4 linked regions of the Homo sapiens genome follow. The protein of the gene in region 3 purifies or fractionates together with the protein of the main gene of each other region. This does not show direct contact. Each region holds a gene or a part of one and is shown on either strand. Other genes may lie near its edges.

What was found.
Region 1: the proteins of KDM4B (region 3) and PKN2 purify together in Homo sapiens (affinity purification with mass spectrometry; one large-scale study listed by BioGRID and IntAct). This does not show direct contact.
Region 2: the proteins of KDM4B (region 3) and PUS7 purify together in Homo sapiens (affinity purification with mass spectrometry; one large-scale study listed by BioGRID and IntAct). This does not show direct contact.
Region 4: the proteins of KDM4B (region 3) and KMT2C purify together in Homo sapiens (affinity purification with western blotting, with the first as the bait; one study listed by BioGRID). This does not show direct contact.

What each region holds. Positions count from the first base shown.
Region 1 is NC_000001.11:88,774,773-88,778,272, reverse strand, and holds part of PKN2 (serine/threonine-protein kinase N2), read right to left. Parts: intron 1-3,500. UniProt on the Homo sapiens protein: PKC-related serine/threonine-protein kinase and Rho/Rac effector protein that participates in specific signal transduction responses in the cell.
Region 2 is NC_000007.14:105,519,472-105,523,444, forward strand, and holds the start of PUS7 (pseudouridylate synthase 7 homolog), read right to left. Parts: upstream 2,801-3,973; 5' UTR 2,581-2,800; intron 1-2,580. UniProt on the Homo sapiens protein: Pseudouridylate synthase that catalyzes pseudouridylation of RNAs.
Region 3 is NC_000019.10:4,972,113-4,975,612, reverse strand, and holds part of KDM4B (lysine-specific demethylase 4B), read right to left. Parts: intron 1-3,500. UniProt on the Homo sapiens protein: Histone demethylase that specifically demethylates 'Lys-9' of histone H3, thereby playing a role in histone code. Does not demethylate histone H3 'Lys-4', H3 'Lys-27', H3 'Lys-36' nor H4 'Lys-20'.
Region 4 is NC_000007.14:152,136,715-152,139,003, reverse strand, and holds part of KMT2C (histone-lysine N-methyltransferase 2C), read left to right. Parts: intron 1-99; coding exon 100-208; intron 209-2,079; coding exon 2,080-2,172; 3' UTR 2,173-2,289. UniProt on the Homo sapiens protein: Histone methyltransferase that catalyzes methyl group transfer from S-adenosyl-L-methionine to the epsilon-amino group of 'Lys-4' of histone H3 (H3K4).

The sequences.
Region 1 (3,500 bases), on a different chromosome or scaffold from region 3:
TGAGACAGGTCTCAATTTAGAAGTTTATTTTGCCAAGATTAAGGATATACGTGACACAGCCTCAGGAGGTCCTGACAACACGTGCCCAAGGTGGTTGGGTTACAGCTTGGTTTTGTACATTTTAGGGAGACATAAGCCATCTATCAATACATGTAAAAGGTACATTAGTTGGGTCCAGAAAAGATGGACAACTCGAAGTAGGGATTTTCAGGTCACGGGTGGATTCAGAGATCTTCTGATTGGCAACTGGTAGAAAGAGTTTATCTAAAGACCTGGAATCAATACAAGGGAGTATTGTAAGAGTGCTGTTAAGATAAGGGGTTGTGGAGACCCAGGTTCTCATTTTGTAGATGAAACCTCCAGATAGCAGGCTTCAGAAAGAAGAGACTGTAAATGTTTCTTATCTACTGAAAGAGTCTGTTCAGTCAGTCTTAAGGTCTCTGTTTTGATGTTAATGCTGGTCTGCAGTACCTGAATTCCAAAGGGAGGAAGGCATAATGAGGCATGTCCAAACCACCCATTCCCAGCACGACCTGAACTAGTGTTTCAGGTTTACTTTAGAATGCCATTGGCTGAGAGGAGGGGGTCCATTCATTTAGTTGGGTGGCTTAGAATTTTATTTTGGTGTACAATATATTAATGAAATAGACACCTCAGGGGTAATACATGAGAAAGAATAGTCTCTACAAAATAGATTATAAAAGTTACTAGGCAAACAACTACATTCAACATATAGCAGAAAAATGAAATCTTTGGAAAGAGTAAAATCTGATTTGTGAGTAAGTATACTAAGGAAATGAAGTACTTGAATTATGAAGCAAGCACAGTAACAGAATACGGTCAGTTCACAGAAAAAAGAAATTAACAGAAACTGACCCTGGGGAAGTCAAGACATGTTGGACTTACTAAATTAAGATGCTCAAAAATCTAAAAGAAACCATGGACAAATATCTAGGGGAAACAAGAAAAGTGATGTGTCTACAAATAGAGAACATCAATATGGATTTAAAAATTATAAAAAAGAACCAAACAGAAATTCTGGAATTGAAAAGTATAACAAAAATGAAAAAATTTGCTAGAGAGGTTCAATACAAGATTTGAGCAGGCAGAAGAAAAAGTGAGCCAATTTGAAGGTAGATCAATTGCACTTGTCTAGTCTTAAGAGCAGAAAGAAAAAATAATGAAGAAAATCAGAGTCTAAGAGAAATACCATAAAGCACACCAATGTAGGCAAAAATCAAAGTCTCAGAGGGAGAAGAAAGAACATTTGAAGAAATGATTGGAAACTTCCCAAATCTGATGAAAGACAAGAACCTACACATCAAGCTCAAAGAATCTAAGTAGAATAAATTCAAAAAGATCCACTCTAAGACACATTATAATTAAACTGTGAAAAAACAAAGAAAAGCTTGAAAGCAACAAGACAAAAATAATTCATCACTTACAAGGGATCCTCAGTAACATTAACAGTGGATTTCTCATCACAAAACATAAAGGCCTGGAGGAAGCAGGAGGACTTTTTTTTTTTTTCTTAAGACAGAGTCTTACTCTGTCACCCAGGCTGGAGTGCAGTGGCATGATCTTGGCTCACTGCAACCTCCGCCTCCCGCGTTCAAACGATTCTCCTGCCCCAGCCTCCTGAGTTACTGGGATTACAGGCATGCGCCATCATGCCTGGCTAATTTCTGTATTCTTAGTATAGATGGGGTTTCACCATGCTGGCCAGGCTGGTCTCAAACTCCTGACCTCAAGTGATCCACCCGTCTCGGCCTCCTTAAGTGCTGGGATTATAGGTGTGAGCCACTGTGCCTAGTTGGACATTTTTTTAAGTGCTGGAAAAAAACAAAATTGCCAGCCAAGAATTCTATATATATACCAAACTATCATTCAAAAAAAGAAAAGAAAGAGATTCCTAGATAACAAAAGCTAAGGGAGGTAGACACTAGGAGACCCGCCCATAAGAAATGCTAAAGAAGCCTTTTAGATTGAAATGAAGGATGGGAGAAGTGACGGGTGGGGCGGGGTGGGGGCAGTGTCAGGGAGGGCAAGGGGGAGGGGGTAGGGGGAGGGGGAGGGAGGGAGAGAGAAAGGAAAAAAGGAAGACAAACGCAGGTAAAATTAACTACATAAGTAAATATAGAAGCCAGTATTTTTTTTTTTTTTTTGAGACGGAGTCTCGCTCTGTCACCCAGGCTGGAGTGCAGTGGCACGATCTCGGCTCGCTGCCAGCTCCGCCTCCCAGGTTCACGCCATTCTCCTGCCTCAGCCTCCTGAGTAGCTGGGACTACAGGGGCCTGCCACCACGCCCGGCTAATTTTTTTTTGTATTTTTAGTAGAGATGAGGTTTCACCATGTTAGCCAGGATGGTCTCGATCTTCTGACCTCGTGATCCACCCGCCTCGGCCTCCCAAAGTGCTGAGATTACAGGCGTGAGCCACTGCGCCTGGCCAGAAGCCAATATTTCTGTATTTTAAGTAACTCTTCTTTTTGTTTCCTTTATGATTTAAAAGACTAATGCATAAAACAATATTTATAGCCTATGTTAATGGGTATATGGTGCATAAAGAGAGTTTGTGACAATATAACAAGGGCACAGTCAAAGAGTTTTTTGTAGGCTACTAAAGATAAGATTATAATAAATTTAGGACATTAGTTATAATCATTGGGGTAATCACTAAGAAAATAATAAACCCGCACATGGATGTTTATAACAGCTTGATACATAACTGCCAAAACCTGGAAGCAACCAAGAAGTCCTTCGGTAAATGAATGAATAAATAAATTATGGTACATCCACACAATAGAGTATTATTCAGCACAAAACCAAAAATGAGCTATCAAAGCATGGAAAGACATAGAGGAAACTTAAATGCATATTACTAAGTGAAAGAAACCAATGTGAAAAGGCTACATACTGTTAAGATTCCAACTGTATGACCATTGTGGAAAAGGCAAAACTACGGAGGAAGTGAGGTGAGTGGTTGCGAGGAGTTCAAGATTTAGTGAAAGACCAGGCATAAGTAGCTCATGCCTGTAATCCTAGCACTTTGGGAGGCCAAGGTGGACAGATTGCTCGAGCCCAGGAGTTGAAGACCAGCCTGGGCAACACAGAGAAACCCCATCTCTACAAAAAAAATAAAATAAGCTGAGCGTGGTGGTGTGCACCTGTACTCCCAGCTACTAGGGAGGCTGAGGTGGGAGAATATATATATCTATCTATCTCATAAAAGGGAGCAAGAAGGGAATAAGAAAAGTAAGAATAGAGGCTGGGCATAGTGGCTCACGCCTATAATCCCAACACTTTGGAAGTCTGAGGTGGGAAGATGACTTGAGGCCGGGAGTTTGAGACAAGCCTGAGCAACACAGTGAGACGCCATTGCTAGCAAAAAACTAAAAATTAGCTAGGTGTGGTGGCACGTTCCCGTACTCCTAGCTACTCAGGAGGTTGAGGCAGGAGGATTGCTTGAGCCCAGATGTTTGAGGTTACAGTGAGCTATGAT
Region 2 (3,973 bases), on a different chromosome or scaffold from region 3:
TGACCTCAAACGAGCTGCCTGCCTCGGCCTCCCAGAGTGCTGGGATTACAGGCATGATGTCACCAGGCCCGGCAGACACACTGCATTCTAATATGCAAAATCATTAAGTCTATGAGGGTCATTCATTCTGCAAATATTTACTGAGCAAGTGTCCTATGTGTCTGGCATTGTTGTAGGTACTGGAAGAAAAGGGTAATACCATTTCCTGTCCTCATGTAGCTTACAATGTATTTGAGAATATATCTGAGAACAAAATAAATCTCAGGACATGCGAGCTCCAAAGAATTAAAACAGGGTAAGGGGCTGAGAGTAAGAGGGGTGTTCTTCAGTGATGCCTCGTCTAAGGAGGAGACTTCTGAGCAAAGACAAGGAAGAACCAGACAGGAAAAGATGTGTGTGAGGAGAGCTCCAGGCAGCCCGAACAGCACGTGTAAAGGACCTGAAACCGGAGCAAACTTAGTCGACAGTATGACCAGCTGGATTGTTCTCTCTCTCTCCTAGGTAAGGAAAAACGCTGCTTCATTAATACAGTACATGCATGCCCCTGCCTCTATCAAAAGACACGTTCAAGGCCGGGTGTGATGGCACACGCCTGTAATCCCAGCACTTCGGAAGGCTGAGGCGGGTGGATCACCTGAAGTCTGAAGTTCAAGACCAGCCTGGCCAACATGGTGAAACCCCGTCTCTACTAAAAATACAAAAATTAGGCGGGGCGCGGTGGCTCACGCCTGTAATCCCAGCACTTTGGGAGGCAGAGGCGGGCAGATCATGAGGTCAGGAAATCGAGACCATCCTGGCTAACACAGTGAAACCCCGCCTCTACTAAAAATATAAAAAATTAGCCGGGCGTGGTGGCGGGCGCCTGTAGTCCCAGCTACTCGGGAGGCTGAGGCAGGAGAATGGCGTGAACCCGGGAGGCGGAGCCTGCAGTGAGCCGAGATCGCGCCACTGCAATACATCTCCAGCCCTCAAGCTGGGTGAATGCTTAACGAGTGGATGGAGGTGCTGCCTCTGCAATACATGTGGGCGACAGAGCGAGACTGTCTCAAAATAAATAAATAAATAAATAAATAAATAAATAAATAAATAAAAATACAAAAATTAGCTGGGCATGGTGGCGTGCACATGTAATCCCAGCTACTCCGGAGGCTGAGGCAGGAGAATCGCTTGAACCCAGGAGGCTGAGGTTGCAGTGAGCCAAGATCGTGCCATTGCACTCCAGCCTGGGTGATGGAGTGAGACTCCGTCTAAAAAAAATAAATCAAAAAACAAAGATATGTTCAAGGCCGAGTGTGGTTGCTCAAGCCTGTAATTCCAGCACTTTGGGAGGTCAAAGCAGGAGGATTGCTTAAGGTCAGGAGTTTGAGGCCAGGCTGGGCAACACAGCGAGACCCTGTGTGGTGGCACATGCCTATAGTCCCAGCTACTTGGGAGGCTGAGGTGAGAGGATTGCTTGAGCCCAGGAGTTCAAGGCTGCAGTGAGCGATGATCACGCAACTGCACTCCAGCCTGGGCAACAAGAGCAAAATTCTGTCTCAAAAAAATTAAAAAAATAAAAATAAAAAAACCAAAAACATGTTCACAAGGAGTTGTTAAGTACGTACTGTTGGCTACTTTCCTAATGTTTGAACCTAACAATTGCCTAACCAACCCCTTTTCAATAGTGTTGTACAGTCTGATTTTCGACAGATCCCTCAATAGTCGAGGCTCCCCCAGGCCAATGGGGCATAGTCATTTCATAGATGATTAGAGGCTTGGGGATGGGGGGGAGGGAACCTTAGTAACCCTTTATTTTTGGAATGGAAAAAAAAAGTAGTCTGACGGGACCAAATATTTTAAAAACTAAACTCTTTGCCAACCCTACTCGGCAGGCAACGAAGGTGTGCTTCTAAACACCTCTGCGCAGGGCTGACGAGGAGGACTCGAATTTCAGCTTGCACAGCAGCACCTCCATCCACTCGTTAAGCATTCACCCAGCTTGAGGGCTGGAGAAAGCACTCTGAGTCTGCAGCCCGTCCACTCCTACTCTGGGAAATGCATACAAAGCAAGCAGTCCCCAGAGCCCGCGTGGCGCCTAGTAGGCTCCCAGTGAGCGGCGACGCAGGACACAGGGGTGGAACACGTGGGCTGGACCCACAGAAGGCAGGCGCGGCGAAGCAGTGGCACCGTGAAGGGCTTCAGGGCCAGTGTTCCTCTGACGGAGGGACAAGAGTTTAGGGAGCGTCCGGGGCAAAGAAAGGGAGGAGTGGGAAGGGGGCCCCCGGGGGACAGCGCCGCGCGGGGAGGAGGGGAGCGCTCGGGCGCGGCGCCTCCGGACGACTGGCCGGGCAGAGCGGAGCGGGGAGCGGGGAGCGGAGAGCGGCGCCTGCACCGCCGAAGCGCAGGACCCACTGGGTTCCAACCGTGCTCCCGCTGGCACGATCCATAATGGAGGCGCCGCGGGCTCTGACCACTGCGGGGCCGCCTTCCCAGTCCGCCTTCCCAGTCCGCACTGCCTCTTGGGGCGGGGCCCTGGGGCTGGGGCTGGGGCCAGGGCCAGGCCGAGGAGCCCCGGCGGCCGCGGGGAGGCCGCGCACTTACCCGGAGCCTGGGAGCGCGGGCGCGGCGTGAGCTGGGCGGCGAGGTGGCCAGCGCTCTGGTTGGGACGCAAGAGAGCGGCGAAGGCCACTTGGATGAGCCAGCGGCTAGGGCGGCCAGGCAAAAGCAGCGCTTTCCGCGCGGAGGACCAGATGCGCTCCAGCCGACTCACCGGCGGCCGGGCTCGCACACGTGCGGCGCAGCGACGCGCCGCGGCCCGACTGGACCCGCCCCGGGGGCGGAGTCCGCTCCCTGCCGCCGGCCCCGCCCCCGGCCCACCCACTCGGAGCGGCCTGCAAGCCAGGGAGCGCCCCAACGCGGACTCCCAGCCTACGCGCGTTCACCCTGGACCTTCCTCGCGACCGCGCCTGAGTCGCACCAGCGGCAGAGAGCGATTTCACCAAGCATCTAAGAGTTCTTTAGATCTTTAGGAAGTCTAAGGCAGCGATTGCCTCCTTTGGTGTTATATTCTAAGTGTTTCCTTCACATAGTTGTGGCCCTTTCACGTTGCACCGACCACGCAGTTGACAATAATGGAAAGAGAATCACTTTAGGGACTAAATATTGTTCTACATTTGATCCTGGGAATGTAGTGGATCTAAAAGCACCATCTTCCTACTTCTTACCGCTCTGGCTTGATGGCTTGCCATAGGATCTGCTTCAAGAAACCGGATCATAGGTTTTTTTTGTTTTGGTTTGGTTTGGTTTTGACAGAGTCTCGCTCTGTCGCACAGGCTGGAGTGCGGTGGCGTGAACACAGTTCACTGCAGCCTCGACCTCCCAGGCTCAAGCAATCCTCCCACTTCAGTATCCCAAGTAGCTGGGACTACAGGTGCATCCCACCGCACCCAGGCTAATTTTTTTGGGGGTGGGGGGTAGAGACAAGATTTCACTATGTTGCCCAGGCTCTAATAGTTTTTTTGCTTTTTGTTTGTTTGTTTGTTTTTTGAGACGGAGTCTTGCTCTGTCGCCCAGGCTGGAGTGCAATGGCGCGATCGCTGCTCACCGCAACCTCCGCCACCCGGGTTCAAGCGATTCTCCTGCCTCAGCCTCCCGAGTAGCTGGGATTACTGGCGCACGCCACCATGCCCGGCTTATTTTTTGTATTTTTAGTAGAGTACGGGGTTTCACTATGTTGGCCAGGCTGGTCTCGAACTCTTGACTTCGTGATCCGCCCGCCTCCGCCTCTGTGTTGAGATTACAGGCGTGAGCCACCGCTCCCAGCCTCTAATAGTTTTTCCGTTTTGTTTTATTTTGTTTGAGAGAGAGTCTCACTCTGTTGCAGGGTTCAAGCGATTCTCCTGCATCAGCCTCCCGAGTAGCTGGGCCTACGAGTGCTTGACATCATGCCAGACTAATTTTTTTGACGGGGTTTTTGCCTGTTGGCCTTGAACTC
Region 3 (3,500 bases):
TCAAAAAAAAAAAAAAAAATTCATTCACTCAACAAGGAATGTCCACTCAACACCCACCACGTCTAAGGAGCTGCCGTACATTCTAGGGGTCGTGAGGCTGACATGGTTTCCATAGCTTTCCGTAGTGTGGCCCTCACACCCTAGCCAGGTATTTGCAAACTACAACCCACAGGTTCAATCCTGCCCGCCACCTGTTTTTGTACAGCCTGCAGTCTAAGAATGGTTTTGACATTTTTTAGTCGTTGGAGGAAAAAAAAAGCAAAAGAAGAAAAATGTCTTATAATGTAAAAATTGCACGGAATTCACGTTTGTGTCCATAAATAAAGTTTTACTGAAACACAGGCACACTCGCCCACGGGAGCTTTCTTGCTACAACGGCAAAGCAGAGTGGTCTGGACAGAGATGACCTCTGGCTTACAAAGCCAAAAATATTTATTCTCCGGCCCTTCCAGAAAAAGCCCCTGCCCTAGTAGATGAGACAAACAGATACACAAACAGACTAATACCCAGCTCTGATCGTGTGACATGCAAAGGAGGAGAAGTAGGGAAGGGAAGTGACTAGAGTGATAAGGAGCCGGCTGGGTGGAAAGAGAACCAGGCAGCGGGCACAGCAAGTGCACAGGTCCTGCGGCAGGGAAGGGCGGGCAGGGAAGGCGGCTGTGCCAGGAAAGGAGCAGGTGCAGGAGGAAGAAAGGGAGGAAAGGAAGGAAGGACAAGGCCACAGATGACAGAGCGAAGGGGCCACGCGAAAGGGCCCAGAATTTTTCCCAAGGGCAACAGGAAGTCACCGGAAGGTTCTGAGCAGGGGAAAATCTTTTGTTTGTTTGTTTGTTTTGGTTTTTACTCCTTTGACTACCTTCTTTTTTTTTTTTTTGGAGACAGAGTCTCGCTCTGTCTCCCAGACTGGAGTGCAGTGGTGTGATCTTGGCTCACTGCAGCCTCTGCCTCCCAGGTTCCAGAGATTCTCGTGCCCCCACATCCCGAGTAGCTGGGACTACAGGCGCCCACCACCATGCCCGGCTGATTTTTGTATTTTTGTAGAGATGGGATTTCACTATGTTGGCCAGGCTGGTCTCAAACTCCTGACCTCAGGTGATCCTCCCGCCTCGGCCTCTCAAAGTGCTGGGATTACAGGCGTGAGCCACCACACCTGGCCAGTTTTTTATTTTATGTATTTATTTACTTACTTACTTACTTATTTATTTATTTTTGAGATGGAGTCTCGCTCTGTCGCCCAGGCTGGAGTACAGTGGCGCGATCTCAACTCACTGCAAGCTCCGCCTCTCGGGTTCACACCATTCTCCTGCCTCAGCCTCCCGAGTAGCTGGGACTACAGGCACCGGCCACCACCATGCCCGGGTAATTTTTTTTGCATTTTTAGTAGAGACGGGGTTTCACGGTGTTAGCCAGGATGGTCTCGATCTCCTGACCTTGTGATCTGCCCGCCTTGGCTCCCAAAGTGCTGGCTTTACAGGCGTGAGCCACTGCGCCCGGCCACTTATTTATTTTTTTGAGACGGAGTCTTGCCCTGTCACCCAGGCTGGAGTGCAGTGGCAGGATCTCGGTGCAATTCTCCTGTCTCAGTCTCCCAAGTAGCTGGGACTACAGGTGTGCACCGCCACGCCCAGTTAATTTTTTTATTTTTAGAAGAGACGAGGTTTCACCATGTTGGCCAGGCTGTTCTCGAACTCCTGACCTCAGGTGATCCGCCCGCCTCAGCCTCCCAAAGTGCTGGGATTACAGGCATGAGCCACCGCACCCAGCCAGTTTTTTTTTTTTTTTTTTTTTAATATGCTTTGTTTCAGAGAGCAGTTTTAGGTTCACAGCAAAACTAAGCAGGAGGTAGAGACTTCCCATGTTCCCCGCCCCAACAGGGAAGGCCATTTTCCGAGCTCCTCAAGGGAGCAGGAGGGAATAGACGGACCCAGATCTAACCAAGTCCAGCATCCTAGAACAGGCCAGTCACGCAGGGAGTGAGCTTGAAAATTAATTTGTCCAAAAACCAAGAAACATCAATTCGTCAATCCACTCCCCCCTCAGTATTTGGGAAGATACAAATTTTCTTTTTTTTAATATAGTGGTTAAGCTCATTTGAACGCGAATTAGTAAAAGTATGTGCAACTTGGCCGAGCATAGTGGCTCATGCCTGTAATCCCAGCACTTTGGGAGGCCGAGGCAGGCGGATCACTTGAGGTCAGGAGTTTGAGACCAGCCTGGTCAACATGGTGAAACCCCGTGTCTACTAAAAATACAAAAGTTAGCAGGGTGTGGTGGCGGGCACCTGTAATCCCAGCTACTCGGGAGGCTGAGGCCAGAGAATCACTTGAACCCGGGAGGCGGAGGTTGCAGTGAGCTGAGATCTAGCCACTGTACTCCAGCCTGGGTGACAGAGTGAGATTCTGTCTCAAAATAAATAAATAAAAGTATGTGCAACTAGCACATTAACGTTCCACAACTCTGGGGACATTACTGTTCAGGAAGAGGCCAAGATCAAAGAGGTGAGTCATTTTTAAATGGACTTAAAGAAAACTGTCTGGCAAATCGACAGGTCAGGGCTATGGTGACTGGGAGGGTGTGGAAGTGCCACCCCTGGGGGCAGCCAAGCAAGCCTGGGCAAGGACCTGCCAAAGCTCAGAGGCCAAAGAGCAGCCCAGGAAGACCCGGAGCTCAGAGGCCAGAGAGCAGCCCAGAAGACCCCACAGATGCCGGGCTGCCCCTCATTGCAGGGCGTGCAGGGGACCCCGTGGGGGCTCCTGTCCTCTCAGGTGGAAGCTGCCACCCTGGAAGGGCAGAAGGACAGTCACGGAGAACCTGAACAACCAGGTGAGGAGTGTGTCCGGGACACAGTTTGCAAATAGGAGTCACTCACTGCTAAAGGGTGAGTGGGGAGGAAAGAAAGGGAGCTGAGGCCCATCACGGTCACAGCACACCATGAGCTACTGCAGGGCTGAAGGCCAAGTCCAAGGTTCTCACTGCGGGGTTGACAGTGCTTCCCAGGGGACATTTTTGGTTGCTACCGCTTAGGGGACAGGGTGCTACTAGCATCTGGTGGGTGGTGGTCAGGGATATTGTTCACACTCACCCTACGGTGCCCAGGACAGCCCCGCCACAGAATGTCCCAGCCCAGAACGTGGATAGGGCAGAGGTGGGGAGACCCTGACAGGGCAGAGGGCCTTGCTGTGTAATAAACCGGCTCCGAACTCAGAGCTCCTGGCACCCTGCAAGCTTCAGCGCCTTTTACCCGCTTTGATCCTCACAACCACCTGGGAGGGAGGTGTTCCCATTACACCCATTTTACAGAGAAGAAAGCAAGGCCCAGAGAGGGGAAGTGACTGCCTCAGAGGAGGGATCTGAATCCAGGTCTCTCCAACTCTGAAGCCTGTGTGGGGCATGGGACAGAGGGCAGAGATCCAGAGACGTCGTCAAGACCACCAGATGAGAACGGAGCCCAGGCTGGGCCCCTGCTCTTCTGTCCGGCATCCTAAGCCAGGAACAGAGAC
Region 4 (2,289 bases), on a different chromosome or scaffold from region 3:
AAATTTAATTAGCAAAAACTGCTTTATCAATAAATGGGAAGTTTTTAAAGCTGCTTCTAGCTGTTTTACAATACAGTTTTCTGACATGGTGGCTTGCAGGTATATCAACCATTCGTGTGCACCTAATTGTGTGGCTGAAGTGGTGACTTTTGAGAGAGGACACAAAATTATCATCAGCTCCAGTCGGAGAATCCAGAAAGGAGAAGAGGTAAGAGTGTGAGAGATTGCATCTGCCATGTTGTTCAGATCCTGGGCGAATAGTTCCCTCCTCACACAGGTCACTTACTCACTTGTTTCCCAATTCTTTGTTGTGATAAAAACTCTGTCCATAATAGGCCAGATGTTCCCACCCTGCAGTATCTCACCCTTCAGGCACTCCAGTTCACCTTCCTCCACATGGCAGCTCTGTGAGCATTTGCTGTCACCTCTCCCTTCCCTTCTGTGCCACGGGTTCAGCATCCCCATGGCACCCAGGTGGTATCATTTCTGTGTGCCATAGGATCCTTCTTTATCCCCTTAACCTGGACACAGTTTGGCAGTGTCCCCTCTGAAGAGCATCCCCGTCCTTCTCCAAGGGGGCCGTGGCTCCTGAGATGGCACTGTTGGGCTGTGGGCGGCAAATCTGGGCCGCCGTGCTGCTGAGGATTGTGTGCTCACGCTGGCGATCAGTGTGTGCTTAACCAAGTGCCCACATCGCCACATTCTTCAGCAGTTCAGGTGTGGGTTGTTGTCTTCAAAATGCCGAGTGCCAAGCTTGCTGTTTGTCTCCGTGCTCTCAGAGGTGACTCTGGTCCGGCGGCTCACCCATTGGGATTATTTTTGGCCTTAATTGCTGCATTTGCTTCCCACCTTGGTCTTTCCCACTGTGATTCAGGTACCTTGGTTCTGGAATTGGCATTTCCTGGAAAGCTGTCACTGAGCAGCAGGCTTGGTTTCTGTAGGAAACGTCCCGCATTTGGGGAGTGAGGCACCTGAGTGACTTGACTTTGTTGGTGCTCCTCTCCCTTCGTGAACATAGCCATGGGATTCGTGGGATTCTATCTGTATTTTGGGTCTTTGTGGAATCTCCTTTCTTAGTCAAGAATAAGGATCCGACTAGACCCAAGGCCCGTTATACATCTCAAAGTAACGTGTAAATAAGACAGTGTGTGGGAGCCCTGGCACAGTGCCAGTAACCAATGGCTACCATGGTGGTCAGAAGAGACTCAGCCCAGGGCCACCTGCCTCCTTCCTACTTGAGTATTCTTGAGTAAATAGTTTAATATGAGCCCCTATTTTATCTTCTGCAAGATAGAGAAAATGACTTCCTTACCAGGCTCTTGGAAGGACTCAGCAGATACCTGAAAGAAAGCAGTGGAATCATTGCCAAGAACAGCTGCTCAATAAACACTGGTTTCCTTCCTTTCTGTGTAGAAGGTCTTTCCAGCTAGCGTCTAGAATCATTTCACTCAGAAGAGACCTAGAAATTCCTGGGCCTCCCCTTCATTTTGCAGCATCGGCTCTCTCTGGGGTGGTGGGGGTTGCAGGGCCGCGCACTGAGGCTTGTACCGTGGGACTCACGCAGACTCCCACCTACCTTGATTGGTCTGAGATGTTAATTTGGTGACCTCTAAATAGAAAGACATCCTTTCAGTCTTGAGTGAGGAAAAATGAAGGAGGGAAAACAGAGTTAGCTGGCAGTTCATCTCACCCAGAATTGCATGCCCCATTCAGTAAATCAGGGGAGGTGAAAGGCTTCTGGGTTTTAGGGAGAGGGCTAGGAAAGCAGTTGCCCTTCCAGTCCCCTCCATCCACTTGCAGGGACAGCATTATGAGAAGTCACAGAAATACAGCTTTCTCTGGTCAGGCTCCCGTTCTCAGATCTCGCTGTTTAAAAATACTGCCTCCCTCATTTCCTCTGTGCAAGCACAATGCCTCTTTTCAGGGTTCCCCCAGGGTCCCATGGAACCTCAATAAATCAGGTCTTCCTTAATTTACGTCTGTTTCGTTTGCTGGTTTTAAAATGCAAGGGAGATGGAGGCAGAAACGCTATTGCCTTCCTTGCTGTCCTTTCTTACCCTGTGTCTTTGCCGTGGGCAGCTCTGCTATGACTATAAGTTTGACTTTGAAGATGACCAGCACAAGATTCCGTGTCACTGTGGAGCTGTGAACTGCCGGAAGTGGATGAACTGAAATGCATTCCTTGCTAGCTCAGCGGGCGGCTTGTCCCTAGGAAGAGGCGATTCAACACACCATTGGAATTTTGCAGACAGAAAGAGATTTTTGTTTTCTGTTTTATGACTTTTTGAA